Linked DNA regions of Homo sapiens. The gene in region 1 interacts genetically with each later gene. Each region holds a gene or a part of one and is shown on either strand. Other genes may lie near its edges.

What was found.
Region 2: of EPS15 (region 1) and AGFG1, changing one enhances a phenotype caused by changing the other (phenotypic enhancement), as found in Homo sapiens cells (one study listed by BioGRID).
Region 3: of EPS15 (region 1) and AGFG2, changing one enhances a phenotype caused by changing the other (phenotypic enhancement), as found in Homo sapiens cells (one study listed by BioGRID).

The regions. Positions count from the first base shown.
Region 1 is NC_000001.11:51,397,244-51,404,370, forward strand, and holds part of EPS15 (epidermal growth factor receptor substrate 15), read right to left. Parts: intron 6,290-7,127; coding exon 6,176-6,289; intron 5,283-6,175; coding exon 5,192-5,282; intron 3,711-5,191; coding exon 3,675-3,710; intron 1,923-3,674; coding exon 1,789-1,922; intron 1-1,788. UniProt on the Homo sapiens protein: Involved in cell growth regulation. May be involved in the regulation of mitogenic signals and control of cell proliferation. Involved in the internalization of ligand-inducible receptors of the receptor tyrosine kinase (RTK) type, in particular EGFR.
Region 2 is NC_000002.12:227,559,112-227,561,800, forward strand, and holds the end of AGFG1 (arf-GAP domain and FG repeat-containing protein 1), read left to right. Parts: 3' UTR 1-2,106; downstream 2,107-2,689. UniProt on the Homo sapiens protein: Required for vesicle docking or fusion during acrosome biogenesis. May play a role in RNA trafficking or localization.
Region 3 is NC_000007.14:100,534,986-100,542,228, reverse strand, and holds the start of AGFG2 (arf-GAP domain and FG repeat-containing protein 2), read right to left. Parts: upstream 3,027-7,243; 5' UTR 2,883-3,026; coding exon 2,662-2,882; intron 1-2,661.

The DNA.
Region 1 (7,127 bases):
GAGCTTGGCACCATCCCTGGCACACAGAGGAAATTAGATAAACTGCAGCTATTATTATATTGCCAATCTGGTTTTTTGTTTTGAATGGTGAAATTACAAGCTGTAAAGCAAGGACAATATTCCTTTAGAAAACTGGGAATAAAAGTCAGTAAAACAAATGGTAGAAAAATCTCATGGGGGACAGGACAAGAGGAATGTATTCATTTTTAAATTAGAAGAGCTAATTTAGCTTTCTTGCTCTTTAGATGATAGGAGAATGAGAGGCTAGAATAAGAAGGTGAGAGGAGAAGAATTCCAGTAGCAGCAATTTTAGAAGAATTTGGCAAATGGGTCCACATTGCAAACTAAGTGCTATAGGAAAACAGAGTATCCAGCAGCCCAGGGAAACGAAAAATATTCAGTCACGAAGGTATCTGTCCAGTTTTTATTCAATGGAAAACACCAGTTCTTAGCCAAGCAGCTCTTTACTGAATACAAAAAAGAAGCAACTTTCAATAATACAAAACCTATTATCTTTAAAATAATCAATTACATTTTAAAGGAAATATTCTTAATCTAATAGTACTAGAAGACAAATTTTTTGCTTCAAATGCTTCTCAGTTAACTGGTCCTTTATAGGTTCAGTTTACCTACAGACATGAAACTGTGGTCTCAAAAACGAAGTCTCAAAATACAAATTAAAAAGCAAAACCAAAAACCTGCAAAACCATTCCTAACTATTGAAATTGGGTAATGGATGCATGGAAGCTTGTTAAAATATTTCATTACATTATTCTCCTTTGAGTATTTCTAAATATCCACAAGATGAAGATTTTTTTTTTTTTTTTTGAGACGGAGTCTCGCTCTGTCACCCAGGCTGGAGTGCAGTGGCGCGATCTCGGCTCACTGCAAGCTCCGCCTCCCGGGTTCACGCCATTCTCCTGCCTCAGCCTCCTGAGTAGCTGGGACTATAGGCACCCACCACCGCGCCTGGCTAATTTTTTGTATTTTTAGTAGAGACGAGTTTTCACCGTGTTAGCCAGGATGGTCTCGATCTCCTGACCTCGTGATCCGCCCACCTCAGCCTCCCAAAGTGCTGGGATTACAGGCGTGAGCCACCGCGCCCAGCCATGAAGATTTTTTTAAAGCCTCCAGATAAAACAGCAACTAGCTATAGGACCTTAAACATGTTAATTTTTCTAAGTCCCAGTGTCCTCATTTTTAAAATAGGGATATCAACACCTACTTTGCAAAATTGATGTGAAGATTAGAAACAATGAATGTAAAGCACACACCAGTACCTGGATCAGGCATGTGGTTATTAAACAGTGATTGCTGTAGGTATGTACATTCTCAAGAGAGCTTGACATTTAGTGAGAATTTGTACTTTGCAGAATTAACATTCCAGATGTGTCTATGAAATAACATAAACGATTTTATTTTTCTAAAATTCTTTTAATTTTCATTATTTCAATAATATACCAAACATTTCAGAAAAGTTTTATGTAAGATTGGCTTATAAATTTCCAATCATTTTTAGTATCCTCAATAGGATAAGATTTAGTCTCTTGAAAGATGAACATCACTTTTGGACTCCGTTCAGTCATTCCAGTTAATTCCAGTGGGTAATCAAACTATGAAATACCAGTCTGAACCAAAAACTAAATGAATTGGGATGAGACTGAAATTCTTATATGGTCCATTAGAAGTAATCTAAATGAGGGTTCTTTCATCACTATGTATTTCAAGAAACTTGCTTAGGACACTTATTATCCATTTAACTTAACAGTTTTTAATTCTCCCACTTACCGATGTAATACTGCTATTGTTGGCTGCACTGAAAGGGTCAGTGCTTGAAGTGGCAAAAGGATCAGTAGATTGCCTGAAGAAACAGTCTGATGCAAATGGATCTGAACCTTTGAAAGGATCACCACCAAATGGATCTAAAAAAATAAGGCACGAATATAAGAGACAAAAAAAAATTATTGCACTAAATTTCCCATCACTTGAAGGTATGATCAGTGCCTTAATTAAAAGACAGTCTGGGGCCAGGTGCAGTGGCTCACGTCTGCATTCCCACCACTTTGGGAGGCTGAGACAGGCAGATCACTTGAGGTCAGGAGTTCAAGACCAGCCTGCCCAACATGTCAAAACCTCCTCTCTACTAAAAAACACAAAAATTAGCCAGGCATGGTGGTGCGCACCTATAGTCCCAGCTACTCGGGAGGCTGAGGTGGGAGACTCACTTGAACCTGTGAGGCAGAGGCTGCAGTGAGCAAAGATCTGCCACTGCACTCCAGCCTGGGTGACAGTGAGACCCTGTCTCAAAAACAAACAAACAAAAAGACAGTTTGGGCCAGGTGCAGTGGCTCACACCTGTAATTCCAGCACTTTGGGAGGTTGAGGTAGACGGATGACTTGAGCTCAGGAGTTTAAGACCGGCCTGGCTAACACAGTGAAACCCTGTCTCTACTAAAAATACAAAAATTAGCCAGGCGTGGTGGTGCGCGCCCGTAATCCTGGCTATTCGGGAGGCTGAGGCATGAGAATAATAGCTTGAGCATGGGAGGCGGAGGTTGCAGTGAGTCAAGACCGCACTACTTGTACTCTAGCCTGGGCAACAGAGCAAGACTGTCTCAAAAAAAAAATCCAAAAAGACAGTTTGAAATACTGTAGAATCTAAGCTGAGTACTTTTTATTTCACAGACTCCTTTGCAATTTTGATAAAAGATACAGAACCTTCCACCTAATAAACTTATTTTTAAAATTAACATATAATTTCAAGGGATCCAATTTTAAGTCCCCTTATTCTACGCTACCGTAACTAAAGAAAACACAATAAAAACTTCTAAATGTATTTTTCTCTCTGAGCTCAAAGCTAACAGCCAATAGTTTAGAACAGGTTTGGGATGCAAAACTAAATGGTAAACAAGATTTGCATTATTCTAATGAAAATTCCCAGAAAAAGAATATCTCAAAAAGCCTGATGTTTTAGTAATTCTTCAAGATTCTCTGCCTCTAATCACACGTGTGGGCTATAATCTTAGGAAAACAAAATTACATTCTAAACCCTGAAGCAGTATAGATCATTATGCTCACCAAACCTTTAGTTAGTAAGGAGGAATCAGAATAAATATTTAAAGCACCAAAGTCTAAACACTAATGTCATTTTTAAAAAAGTAAAGCTATCGGGCACAGTCGCTCACACCTGTCTGTAATCGCAGCACTTTGGGAGGCTGAGGCAGGAGGACTGCTTGAGCCCAGGAGTTCGAGACCAACCTCGGCAACACAGTGAGACCCTGTCTCTACAAAAAATAAAAAAAAATCAGTCAAGTATGCTGGCATGAGCCTGTAGACCTAGGTACTCAGGAGGCTGAGGCAGGAGGATTGCTTGAGCCCAGGAAGTCAAGGCTGCAGTGAGCCATGATCACACCACTGCATTCCAGCCTGGGTGACAGAATAAGACCCTGTCTCAAAAACAAAAAACACCAAAAAAAAAAAAAAAAAAAAAAAGAAGAAGTAAAAGTAAAGCAACAATTCATTAAGCAAAATCAAAAGAATTTACTACTCTCTTTCTGAAAATGCCAGGCACATAGAGCATCTTACTGGGGCTTCAGTTTCAGACCTAAATAACATAAGCTTATTATTAAGCAGAAATGAATGAAAGCTAAGATGAAACTCAATAAGATACTGACCGATTTTTCCAAAAGGATCATCCTTGAAAGGATCACCTGTGATAAAATAAACACAAAGAAATCCAAATAACAATATTTACTGTGGTGACACCACTACTTAAAGAGTAACTTTCAAACAAAAGCAAAGCAAAGTTTATTTCAATAACTTCACTTCACAGTAGATAAAATAAGGAATGTCATTGACCTTATGAAATATACAGCCAACTATACTTACCTTGATCACAAGTTGAGGTTACGGATGGAGGGGAAGACATTACAGCAAAAATTTTACTAACAAAATCTCTACTCTCCACAAGAGTACTGGGAGGGTATTATCATCACCAGTTCAGAAATAAAGGTACTGAGCTTTACTGAAGCAAAAAAAAAAAAATTCTTACAGGATTGAAGAGTCCAGAAATAAATCCTTACCTTTATGGTCATTTGATTTTTGACAAGCGTATCAAGAACACAAAATGGAGAAAGGACAGTCTTTTCAACAAATGGTGTTAGGACAACTGGATATCCACTTGCAAAAGAATGAAGCTCGACCTCTATCTCACATCATATACAAAAATAAACTCAAAATGGATCAAAGATCTAACTGTAACAGCAAAACTATAAAACTCTTAGACAAAGACAGCATTAAATCTTTGCGACTTAGGTAATAGTTTCTTAGATGACACCAAAAGCACAAGTGACAGAAGAAAAAATAGATAACTGGACTTCACCAAAATTGAATAAACACTTTTCCAAAGAAGATACACAAATGGCTAATAAGCATCTAGAAAGATGTTCAACATTAGTCAGTAGGAAAATACAAAGCAGGCCAGGCGCAGTGGCTCACACCTGTAATCCCAGCACTTTAGAAGGCCGAGGCAGGCGGATCACCTTACATCAGGAGTTCAAGACCAGCCTGGTCAAAATGGTGAAACCCAGTCTCTACTAAAAATACAAAAATTAGGCCAGACGCGGTGGCTCACGCCTGTAATCCCAGCACTTTGGGAGGCCAACGTGGGCGGATCACGAGGTCAAGAGATGGAGACCATCCTGGCCAACATGGTGAAACCCCGCCTCTACTAAAAACACAAAAGTTAGCTGGGTGTGGTGGCAGGCACCTGCAATCCCAACTACTCAGGAGGCTGAGGCAGGAGATTAGCTTGAATCCGGGAGGCAGAAGTTGCAGTGAGCCGAGATTGTGCCACTGCACTCCAGCCTGGCGACAGAGCGAGACTCCATTTCTAAATAAATTAATTACATAAATAAATAAATACACACATACATACATACATACATACATAAAATTAGCTGGGTGTGGTGGTGGGCGCCTGTAGTCTCAGCTACTCAAGAGGCTGAGACAGGAGAATCGCTTGAACCCAGGAGGCGGAGGTTGCAGTGAGCCGAGATCGTGCCACTGCACTCCAGCCTGGGCGACAGACTGAGTTGGTAGGCTATTGAAACTGAAGCCTTGAATCCTTAGTTTATATATTAAAAAGTCTTTTTTTTGGGTAAATCTATAATATAAAAAAAAGAGTACTTACTGCCAACAAAAGGATCAGACTGGAAAAAATCCAAGTTTGTATCTGCAACTGGACCTGTCAGCGAACTTGAGTCTACATTAAATGGATCTTCCTAAAAATAATTTTAAATTAAAATTATTTTTTAGAAACCAAAGTTTTAAAAGGTAACATTTTAAAATAAAATAACACACATTCAGGTCATACACATGCTTTGAAAAATCAACTGATGGGCCAGGCACGGTGGCTCACACCTGTAATCCCAGCACTTTGGGAGGCTGACGTGGGCAGATCACAAGGTCAAGAGATAGAGACCATCCTGGCCAAAATGGTGAAACCCCGTCTCTACCAAAAACACAAAAATTAGCTGGGCATGTGCAGCTACTCAGGAGGCTGAGGCAGGAGAATTGCTTGAACCTGGGAGGTGGAGGTTGCAGTGAGCCAAGATCACACTACTGCACTCAAGGCTGGGTGACAGAGTGAGACTTGGTCTTGAAAACAAAAGGAAAATCAACTGATGGTAATGTAACAAATATCTCTCTAGTCATAAAGCACCTTTAACACATTTTTCTCTTTCCTTCACCTTAACATATTTTTCTCTTTCCTTCACCTAAAATAGTGTATAATTCATCTGAGGAAAACAGTGATAAGGACATTTTTTTAAAATATCATTTAATTTTTAGAGATTAGGTCCCTCTATGTTGCCTAGTGCCTCCAACTCAGGCTCAAGCAATCCACCTACTTCACCTCCTGAGTAGCTGGGACTACAGGCACTTGCCACCACATCCAGCTATTAAGAACATTTATTTATTTTATATGTATAAATTCAAGGGGCACAAGTGGAATTTTGTTACATGGCTATATTGCCTAAAGGTGAAGTCGGGGCTTTTGATGTATCTATCATCTGAATAATGTATATTGTACCCATTAAGTAATGTCTGATAATTCACCTCCTCCTGTCCTTCCACCCTTACAAGTCCCCAATGTAAATATAAAATCATTTTTTACCTCTTTTGAATGTCTATTATTGTCGAGTTCAGAACAAACTTTTTCAGTAACAGCTGTAGTCACCTCATTTTCATCAGTCACACCAGAAGGCAGTAGTTCAGGACTACTTCTTGCCTACAAAATATTAATGCAAGTAGATTAACAATATACTTTTTGACATGGCAGAGAAAACTGACTAAAGATAACCAAAAACTATTTAAAAATAAAAAAAGACAAGCAGAATGTATTCATCAAATAACTTCTCCTTCTATAATCTTTTTTAGGGAAATGGTGTCATCAAGCATCAAAGTCACTCATGTCAGAAACCTTCAGGTCATCTTTAATCCTCAGAATATGACTCCAAGTCTTGCTCAGTCTACCTCTTACCTCTTTTTCAAATCCTTGCCTTCTTCTCCATCCTCACTGTCACTATCAATCACTTATAGTACTATCATCTTTGGTTCCAATTACTATAGCAGTCTTCCTTCCAACTGCTTTCCTGCCTCCAATACATGTATTTCCAATCTCTTCTCCTTATTGTAGCCAAACTAATAGCTCTAAAATGTGGATGTGATCGTGACCCTTCTGGTTAAAAGTCCTTCAATGGCTTCCCATTGTCTTCTTCATTTAGACGAGTGGGTGAAAGACTTAAGAAGTAGTAGGGGCAGGCCGGATGCAGTGGCTCACACCTGTAATCCCAGCACTTTGGGAGGCCGAGGCAGGCAGATCACAAGGTCAGGAGATCGAGACCTTCCTGGCTAACACGGTGAAACCCCGTCTCTACTAAAAATGCAAAAAATTAGCCAGGTGTGGTGGCACACGCCTGTAGTCCCAGCTACTCGGGAGGCTGAGGCAGGAGAATAGCTTAAACCCGGGAGGCTGAGGCAGGAGAATAGCTTGAACCCAGGAGGCAGAGGTTGCAGTGAGCTGAGATTGCGCCACTGCACTCCAGCCTGGGCAACAGAGCGAGACT
Region 2 (2,689 bases), on another chromosome or scaffold:
TATAGGGGTTGCACATTCAAGGCTTACACTGAATTCTGTCTGCAGTTCTGTTTTGTGTGACCAGCACAGTGTTTTAAAACGTTGCATTCTGAATCCATCTTTTTGAAATGGGGCATGTACTCTTAAGGTGGCCACTAGCTTACCATTCCCAATTTTTCTTAGTCTCAAACATTCACATGTTTTTCAAGGCCTTGGAGTTGGCAAATCCTGAATATATAGTGAAGGTAGGAAATAGCTCTTCTTATGCCACATCTTAGTCTGATTTTGAAGTCAGTTGTGTAAGTTTGGGCTGACAGTGGTATTTTCCAGTGAAGACTATCGCCAAGAATGCATATCATTCTGCTTATTTTATTCTAGTGGATAAAAATTCAACGTATATTTAAGTGTATTTTTGACATCTGTGCTTGTCCAACACAGGGCTGTAGGGACTGATGAAAAGAGAATGTTGTGATTTGAGCTTTTATAAAAAAAGATAAGTGATCCTAGATAAAATATTTTAGATGGTGATTAAAATGCCCATAGATTAATTTTTTAATCGGTTCTCTGAAATCTTGAGATGTTATCCAAGTTACAATTTAAGCAATGAGAGTAAAATTTGAATTCTAAATTCTCAGCATCTTCCCTCATTCTTGAGTGGAGAGACAGAGGAAGCAAACGCCAAGGAGCCTTCTAATTTTGACTATATGATCATTAACTAAAGGCAGCAAGGGATTGTAAACTAATCTTACATAGTCAATGTTTCATAGAATGCTTTGGTTACAATCAGGTTTTTTAAAGACTTTAAAGGTTTTTTGTATGCTATAATATATGCTTATGATTTCTAAAAATTATGCAGTATACACAAAGGGCATAAAGTCAAAAAGTGTGTCTCCCTCTGTGACTTTATTCTCATACCCCAGAGGCATATAATTTCTTGTATTCTTGTGTAGTCTTTAAGAAATGTTATCGTTTATTTTATATATGGCTCTCTCTCTGTATGCCTCTTCCTGTTCTTATTTTAAATGTTCAAGTTTGTGACTTGGTTCTTGTTTAACTTGGTTGTCTTTCCATATTGCCACCTTCCAGCTCTAACATTAATGTCTCCAGGATTCCATTATATGGATGTCCCTTTGGGAGAACATTTGTTTATAGACTTTTCTACTAAAAATATTGTTATAATGATAATATCCTTATGCATATATGAAGATTACTCTTGATTCTGCCTGACTGGAAACTTTATTAATAAAGTAGACATTATTCTATTTTGAGGCTCACCAGCTGTGTAGGTATGATCTTGTGCTTCCATTTAAGAAATTCTTCCATTTAAAGAAGAAAAAAAATCTCTCTGACTATCTGAAGATATATGAAAAAGCCTATGCTTTTAAATTAAACTGTTAAGACAGTCCATTGAAAGATTGTGGAAGTTCACATCTATTTTGCACCTTAATTTTTTCATTGTCCCTACTCATGACTCTAAAAAGTGCATGGCTTGGGGCTATACTTTGTTTTGCAGTTTGTTGGTATCGTGCCTTTCCTTATCTACATTAGCTTAGACTATACCTTATTTTTAAGAAGAGAAAGTGGAAATTAACTGTGGCAAAACCTATTTTGGCACAACCACATTTGTTCATTATACAAAATTAGCTTCCTATGCTTTAGAAAAAATGTGAGTTATTACTCTGAAAGTTGTGATTCTGATTCCTCATGGTTTGGAGCTCAGAAATTTCTTAACATGTCTTTGCTGTTAGTCAAGCACAGGATTTGTTTTCTGCAAAAGTTTATTTTCAATGAAGAATACTTGTCCTAATAGCTCATAAAAAGTACCTTTGCACTTTAAATCCTAGGAATAGGGAACAAGGAAACTTACTGGGAAGTTCAAAAGAAAGAATAACAGGACCTTCTAGTCAGCAGGGCATGTTTGGAAAATGTTAATACGCCATGATTTTTGAAGACCAATTTTAGTTCAGGAGGTGGTTTTAAATATTGGATGAAAACTTACAGGCTGTTTTCAATATTCATTTCTGAAATACTTTAGTATGATAGATAAATTTGGTTAAGTTCTTGTTCATTGTGAAATACTGTTGGAAGAATTTTTTTCAAAATAAAGACTTCTGAATTTGTGTACCATTTGGGAATAGCCTCTTTCATTTAAATGAGTGTCAAATCTGGAAAATTGGAAGAATATTTGTTCCTTTCATCACTCACATTATGCATTTCTGTAAAGCAGCTCATGCATTTACTTCCAGCTTAACGTGTTTTCCATTAATTAATAAGTTTTGCCATTTTTTTCTGTATTTTTCAATTAAAAAGTCTTCATTTTTAAAAAGCAGGATCTATTTGTTACTTAATTTGCAATATTTTTTTTTCAAAGATGGATTTTTTTTTTTCTGGAGTACACATTGATGGAAGTTGGTTTTAAGAAAGCATTGTAATGGGAATTTACCTACCTTACTACTGTTGAAGTTTAGAAGGTAAATGCTGAACTGTGTTTGTCACATCCCTAATCTTATTTCTCTGTAGTGGTCACTGACTATTATTTGTTATGAGTCCATCTTGATTATTCTGTACATCTTGTTTAAATTATTTTCACTAACCATCACCAGAACACAGAAGAAAATTTTGTTTCCTTAGAATCAATGAGTATTTCCACCACCTGAGGGTGGGGGACAAGGAGGAGAGAACTAATGTTTGTTTTAGCCTCTTTAATGAG
Region 3 (7,243 bases), on another chromosome or scaffold:
GCCTGACCAACATGGCAAAACCCCGTCTCTACTAAAAATACAAACATTAGCCAGATGTGGTAGCGCGTGCCTGTAGTCTCAGCTACTCAGGAGGCTGAGGCAAGAGAATTGCTTAAACCCAGGAGGCAGGGGTTGCAATGAGCCGAGATCGCGCCATTGCACTCCAGCCTAAGCAACAGAGTGAGACTCCATCTCAAAAAAAGAAAAAAGAAACCAGGTTTTTAACGTGTCCCAGATACCTTAGCTTTCTTTGTGTCCTGATTGAGGGGTATTATAAGGGAAATGTTATCTGTGGGACACTTTAACAAAGATCTACAAAATAATGATAACAATGTCAGCACTTCCCAGTTACTCAATTTTATCCATCAGTTTCATCCTTCTGCTTCTCATAGCAGGATCTTCAGGAATCAGCTCTTTCTCTTTCTACTTTACCCTATACATACTCCTTTTTTTTTTTTTTTTGTGAGACAGAGTCTCGCTCTGCGACCCAGACTGGAGAGTGCAGTGGTGCGATCTCGGCTCATTGCAACCTCCACCTCTTGGGTTCAAGCAATTCTCTTGCCTCAGCCTCCTAAGTAGCTGGGATTACAGGCACCTGCCACCATGCCTGGCTAATTTTTGTATTTTTAGTAAGAGATGAGATTTCGCCATGTTGGCCAGGCTGGTCTCGAAACTCCTGACCTCAAGTGATCTGCTCACCTTGGCCTCCTATACATACTGAGCCACCGAGCCCGACCCCTATACATACTCCTAAACGTTGCTCAATCTCTCCCCAGAGTTCTTCACCCACTCTCGAGTCTCTATCCTCTTGCTTCATTTCAGTCCATCTCAGTTTATGACACATTACTGTTTGGGTTCTCAATCATTATCCCAAGAGCCACGATGACTTTTACTTAGACCAAAGTCAAGTTCATCCTTACAACCCACAAGTGAGGTTGATCAGAACCCAGAGAGAAGTTTAGCAAAGGAGGTTAAAACGAAGTAAATAATTCCAAACGGTATCTTGAGAAAACTAAATCCTCATTGCTGGTCTGCCATGATCATCACTAATATCAAACAACAAATGTTGGAAACCGCAATGCCCATATGGCACTGGATAAGTTACGAAACCTCTCTTTGCTTCTGTTCTCCCATCTGTCTTGCAAGAACAATAGTGCTCGCTCCCTGGCTCCTAAAGGTATCAAGACAGGGAAAGCTTTTTTTTTTTTTTTTTTTTTTGAGACAGTGTCTTGCTCTGTCGCCAGGCTGAAGTGCAGTGGCGCAATCTCAGCTCACTGCAACCTCCACCTCCCGGGTTCAAGTGATTCTCCTGCCTCAGCCTCCCAAGTAGCTGGGAGTACAGGTGCGCGCCACCACACCCAGGTAATTTTTGTATTTTTAGTAGAGATGGGGTTTCACCATGTTGGCCAGGATGGTCTCGATCTCTTGACCTCATGATCTGCCTGCCTCGGCCTCCCAAAGTGCTAGGATTACAGGCGTGAGCCACAGCGCCTGGCTGGAAAGCATTTTTTAAAAAACAAAACAAAAACAACAGTGTCTTAAAATAAGACTAAAAAATTGTCAAAATAAATCCCTTGACAAACTTATTAAAAAACAGAGATCCAGGCCTGATATCAGATGTTAATCATGCATCTAACCAAATAATATCTTAATTTGGGAGTAGGAGGAGTGCAGAGGGGAGTGGAGGGGGCTTTACTATATAACCAGAAATCTAGGCTAGAATTGTGGCTGTAAATTCACTCTGGCATGACCGAACAGTACCAATGCCAAGAGTAGCACTCAGATGATGCACCAAAGCCCCCCCAAAATCTAGAGTTTCCTGGATGCTACCACCAGGATCCAGTCATGGCAACAGGGATCTTAAAGGTGTAAATGATTAACCTTCAGGATGGCTCACCTAGACGTGCAAACGTTTGAAAAAGCTAAGCTCTCTACCAGGGTAACCCATTGGCTCTCATCTCTTAGATTTCGTAAGAGTTTTACCTTCTGGGTAACATTTCAAAGCCCTGCTAAGATTAGTATCTACACCTGAACTCTGGACCATGGCTCCCTTCCAGCCACTATCTCTAGGCTGTCAATCGGGGTTAATTCGCTTTTTTTTTTTTTTTTAATCCTGTACTCTAATCATAGGAATTTCAACCAAGTTTCAGCTGGCTTCTGCATCTCACACTCCAGCAGGGACACAAGCCCGAAGGAAGAAAGGTGCCCGTCCATCTCCAGGCCGGCTTTCCCCACCTTTTTCCTTTTTGCTTTCCACCTGCATGAAGTTCCCTCTAAAGGTGCATGTCATTTTCTGGCCCTTTAAGTCCCGACACCCCATCCCACTCCGAGTTCCCTTCCATCCTCCGCACTTTCTCCCTCCCCACTTGCAGTTTGCCTCGACCCCCTCGGGGAGTTTCTCGGTCCCTCTCCGGGCGTCTTTCTGCACCCGTACCCTTCTCTCCGCAGAGCGACTCCGGCCTTGCTTCCTCTCCCCTGCCCTTTCCCCTCCCCACCACACCGCTGCAGCAGACGACCCCGTCCCCACAGCCGGCGCGTTCCCTGACCTCCCCTCCGCCCCTCACCTCGGCCCCCTTCCCTCGCGCCCCGGAGCCCCGGCCTCCCCACCCCGCCCCCGGGTCCCCCCACGCCGACCTCGGCCACTCCCTCCCGGTCACTCACAGGAGGCCGGAGCAGGTGGTGCACACGAAGCTGCCCACGGTGATATCCACGTAGGTGACCCCGCGCTGGGCGCACTCGAAGCAGTGGCGGTTCCCGGCCTGGCTGCAGCCACCCAGCTCCCGCACCCGACGGCACCACACCTCCGAGGCCGCCTCCGCCTCCGCCTTGCCCCCGCTGACCCCGCCGCCCGGGCCCGGGCCCTTCTTCGCCGCCATCACCATCGCTGCCCACTCCCTCCCCGCTAGTCAGCAATCACCCCTTCAACCACTGCCGCCTTCCCGCCTCCTCAGCCGCCTCCGCACGCCCGGCTCCCCTGACAGAAGCTCGGGAGCGGGCGGCATCCGCAGGAGACTTCGCCGTCCACCACCCTCCTTGCCCGTCCTGCACACTGATTGGCTAGGTTTCTCCCACCTCCTTACTCCGATTGGCCCTCCCTGGGACGGCCTCCGGTTGCTGGAGCCGCCAATGCCCCGCCCCACCGCCTTCAGGCCTCAGGCCTCTCCTATTGGCCGGCAGAGACCCCAGCAGCGAGAACCGTGCGTGCCCTCTCCTTGTCCCCGCCCCCTCTCGCCGCTGCCTCCACCGTGGCCCGCCTCCTAGTTCCGATTGGTGAGTCCTCGGCACTCGGGCTCCGACGCTAATTTTGATTGGCTGGCGGGGCTGCAAAGTTAGCGCGCGAGACAGAGGAGGTGCCCCGCGCGTGCGTAGCTGTCGTCCTCCCGACTGATGACGTTAATTCCCGGCAAATTTCAAAGGCTTACTCTAGACTGTGTAGAGTGTCATGCAAAGCCGAAGAGAAGTGGCCATGTGAGGGGCTGAGCAGGAGGGGGAAAGAAGAGAGCGCTTAAGGGAGAGAGGGAGAGGGAGCAAGAGTGCTTTACTAGACCAGTGCTCTAATTCCTGAGCCACAGAGCGAAGGGAGTGCTTTATAAATGTCATTTCATTCGCTCCGCCTATCCCAGAGGTGGAATCCCCATTTTACACCCTTAGGTTCAACAACTTGCGGCAGATCACACGAGTGCGTGGCCCAGGATTCCACTCTGGGTCTTCCAACTTTAGAAACCCTGCCTTTAACCCTCCTAGTAGGTGGACTATTATTCGATTATTCATTTAACAAACACTGAGTGTCTGCTAGGTTTCAGGCACGTTCTAGACACTGGGAATAGAATACAGCAGCGAAGCAATCAAACAAAATATTCTTATAGAGCTTAGTTTCTAGTAGGGGGAAGCAAACAATACACAAATTAAAGAATCACCAGTTAGTAATAAATCCTACGCAGAGAATTAAAATCACATCTTGGAAAAGACTTTTTGGGTACTTTTTTAATTTTTTAATTTAATTTTAATTTTTTGAGATGGAGTCTCACTCTGTTGCCCAGACTGGAGTGCAGTGGCACGATGTCAGCTCACTGCAACCTCTGCCTCCTGGGTTTAAGCAATTCTCATGCCTCAGTCTCCTGAGTAGCTGGGATTACAGGCGGCCACCACCACCCCCAGATAATTTTTGTATTTTTATTATTATGATTATTATTATTTGAGATGGAGTCTCGCTCTGTCGCCCAGGCTGGAGTGCAGTGGCACGATCTCGGCTCACTGCAAGCTTCGCCTTCTGGGTTCACGCCATTCTCCTGCCTCAGCCTCCCGAGTAGCTGGGACTACAGGCACCCGCCACCACGCCTGGCTAATTTTTTTGTATTTTCAGTGGAGACGGGGTTTCACCGTGTTAGCAAGGATGGTCTCGATCTTCTGACCTCGTGATCCGCCGGTCTTGGCCTCCCAAAGTGCTGGGATTACAGGCGTGAGCCACCGCGCCCGGCCAATTTTTGTATTTTTAGTAGAGACAGGATTTCACCATGTTGGCCAGGCTGGTCTCAAACTCATGGCCTCAAGTGAGCCTCCCGCCTTGGCGTCCCAAAGTGCTGGGATTACAAGCATGAGCCACAATGCCTGGCCACCTGTTGGGTACTTCAGATTGGGTTGGTCACCATTTTTAAAACAATTACTTTTTTTTTGAGACAGGGTCTCGCTTTATCACCCAGGCTGGAGTGCAGTGACACAATCATGGCTCACTGCAGCCTCAACCTTCTGGACTCAAGTGATCCTTCCACCTCAGCCTTCCAAGTAGCTGGGAGTACAGCTGTGCACCACCATGCCTGGCGAATTTTTAAAAATTTTTTGTAGAGATTGGGTCTCACTATATTGCCCAGGCTGGTCTGGACCTCCTGGGCTCAAGTGATCCGCCCACCTCAGCCTCCATCTCCCAGGTTCAAGCGATTCTCCTGCCTCAGCCTCCCAAGTAGTTGGGATTACAGGTGCGTGCCACCATGTCCAGCTAATTTTTGTATTTTTAGTAGAGATGGGGTTTCACCATATTGGCCAGGCTGGTCTTGAAGTCCTGACTTCAAATGATCCACCCACCTTGGCCTCCCAAAGTGCTAGGATTACAGACGTGAGTCACCGCACCCGGCCTCTTTTTGTTTTGTTTTGTTTTTTTTGTTTTTTTTTTTTTTTTTGAGACAAGGTCTTGCTCTGCTGCCCAGGTTGGAGGGCAGTGGCACAATCATACCTCACTGCAGCCTCAACCTCCCCAGTTCAAGTGATCCTCCCACCTCAGTCTCCAGGGTAGCTGAGACTACAGGCGCACACCACCATGCCTGGCTAATTTTTGATTTTTTGTAGAGAAGGGGTCTCACTATGTTGTCCAGGCTGGTGGCTGGCAGCCTGCTTTCTCTCTCTCTCTCTTGTTTTTTTCTTTTTGAGACAGGGTCTTACTCTGTCACCCAGGCTGGAGTGCAGTGGCACAATCTTGGCTCACTGCAACCTCCACTTCCTGGGGCTTGAGTGCTCCTCCCACCTCAGCCTCCCGAGTAGCTGGGACTACAGGTGCATGCCACCATGCCCAGCTAATTTTTTGTATTTTTAGCATGTTGGCCAGGCTGGTCTCGAACACCTGAGTTCAGGTCATCTGCCCGCTTTGGCCTCTCAAAGTGCTGGGATTATAGGTGTGAGCCACCGCACCCGGCCCCATTTTTCAATTAATGGCACCATGAGCCACCTAGTTGCCCAAAGCAAAAATCTAGAGCTACTCTCTTCAATACGGCAGCCACTAATCATATGTGGCTATTTAAGTTTAAATTAAATTAAAATGGGCTGGGCGTGGTGGCTTATGCCTGTAATCCCAGCATTTTGGGAGGCCGAGGCAGGCGGATCACGAGGTCAGGAGTTCGAGAAAAGCCTGGCCAACATAGTGAAACCCTTTAATCTACTAAAAATACAAAAATTAGCCAGGCATGGTGGCAGGCACCTGTAATCCCAGCTACTTGGAAGGCTGAGTCAGGAGAATTGCTTGAACGTGGGAGGTGGAGGTTGCAGTGAGCTGAGATCGCGCCATTGCACTCCACCCTGGGTGACAGAGCGAGACTGTCTCAAAAAAAAAAAAAGAAAGAAAGAAAGAAGAAGGAAAGAAAAAGAAAAGGAAAGGAAAAGGGGAGACTAAAGGAGGAGTAGGTTAGGGCAGGGCCTAACCTACTGGGCCATGGACCAGTACCTGTCTGTGGCCTGTTAGGAACCAGGCCACGCAGCAGGAAGTAAGTGGTGGGCAAATGAGCAAAGCTGCATCTGTATTTACAGCCACTACCCATTGCTCCCATTACCGCCTGAGCTCTGCCTCCTCTCAGATCCGCAACAGCATTAGATTCTCATAGGAGCACGAACCCTATTGTAAACTGCGCATGCAAGGGATCTAGGTCATGCACTCCTTATAAGAATCTAATGCTTGATGACCTGTCACTGTCTCCCATCACCCCCAGATGGGACCGTCTAGTTGCGAGAAAACAAGCTCAGGGCTCCCACTAATTCCACATGATGGTGAGTTGTATAATTATTTTGTTATACATTACAATGTAATAATAATAGAAATAAAGTGCACAGGCCAGGCGCGGTGGCTCACGCCTCTAATCCCAGCACTTTGGGAGCTGAGGTAGGCAGATCACGAGGTCAGGAAATCGAGACCATCCTGGCCAACATGGTGAAACCTCGTCTCTACTAAAAATACAAAACTTAGCTGGCCATGGTGGCACGTGCCTGTAATCCCAGCTACTTGGGAGGCTGAGGCAGGAGAATCGCTTGAACCCAGGAGGTGGAGGTTGCAGTGAGCCAAGATCGTGCCACTGCACTCCAGCCTGGTGACAGAGCGAGACTCCGTTTAAAAAAAAAAAAGTGCACAATAAACTTAATGTGCTCAGATCATCCCAAAATCATCCCCCAACTCCCACCCGCCGGTTAGTGGAAAAATTATCTTCCTGGTCCGTGGTGCCAAAACGGTTGGGGACTGCTGGGTTAGGGGGTGCTGATAGGCAGAAATCAGTAGCTTGGTTTTGGACATGTTGATTTGAGATCCTTGTGAGGCATCCAGTGGGCTGATAAGCAGGCAGGTGGATATGTATAGACTGGATTTCCAGGCCAGGCCAGAGCTGGAAATGTAGGTTTAGGAGTCATCGCTTAGAGCCATGGGACTGGTTGCTTAGGTACAGCATGTAGAGAGAGACTAGAAGCAGGCCCAGAAGTAAACCCTAGGCACCCA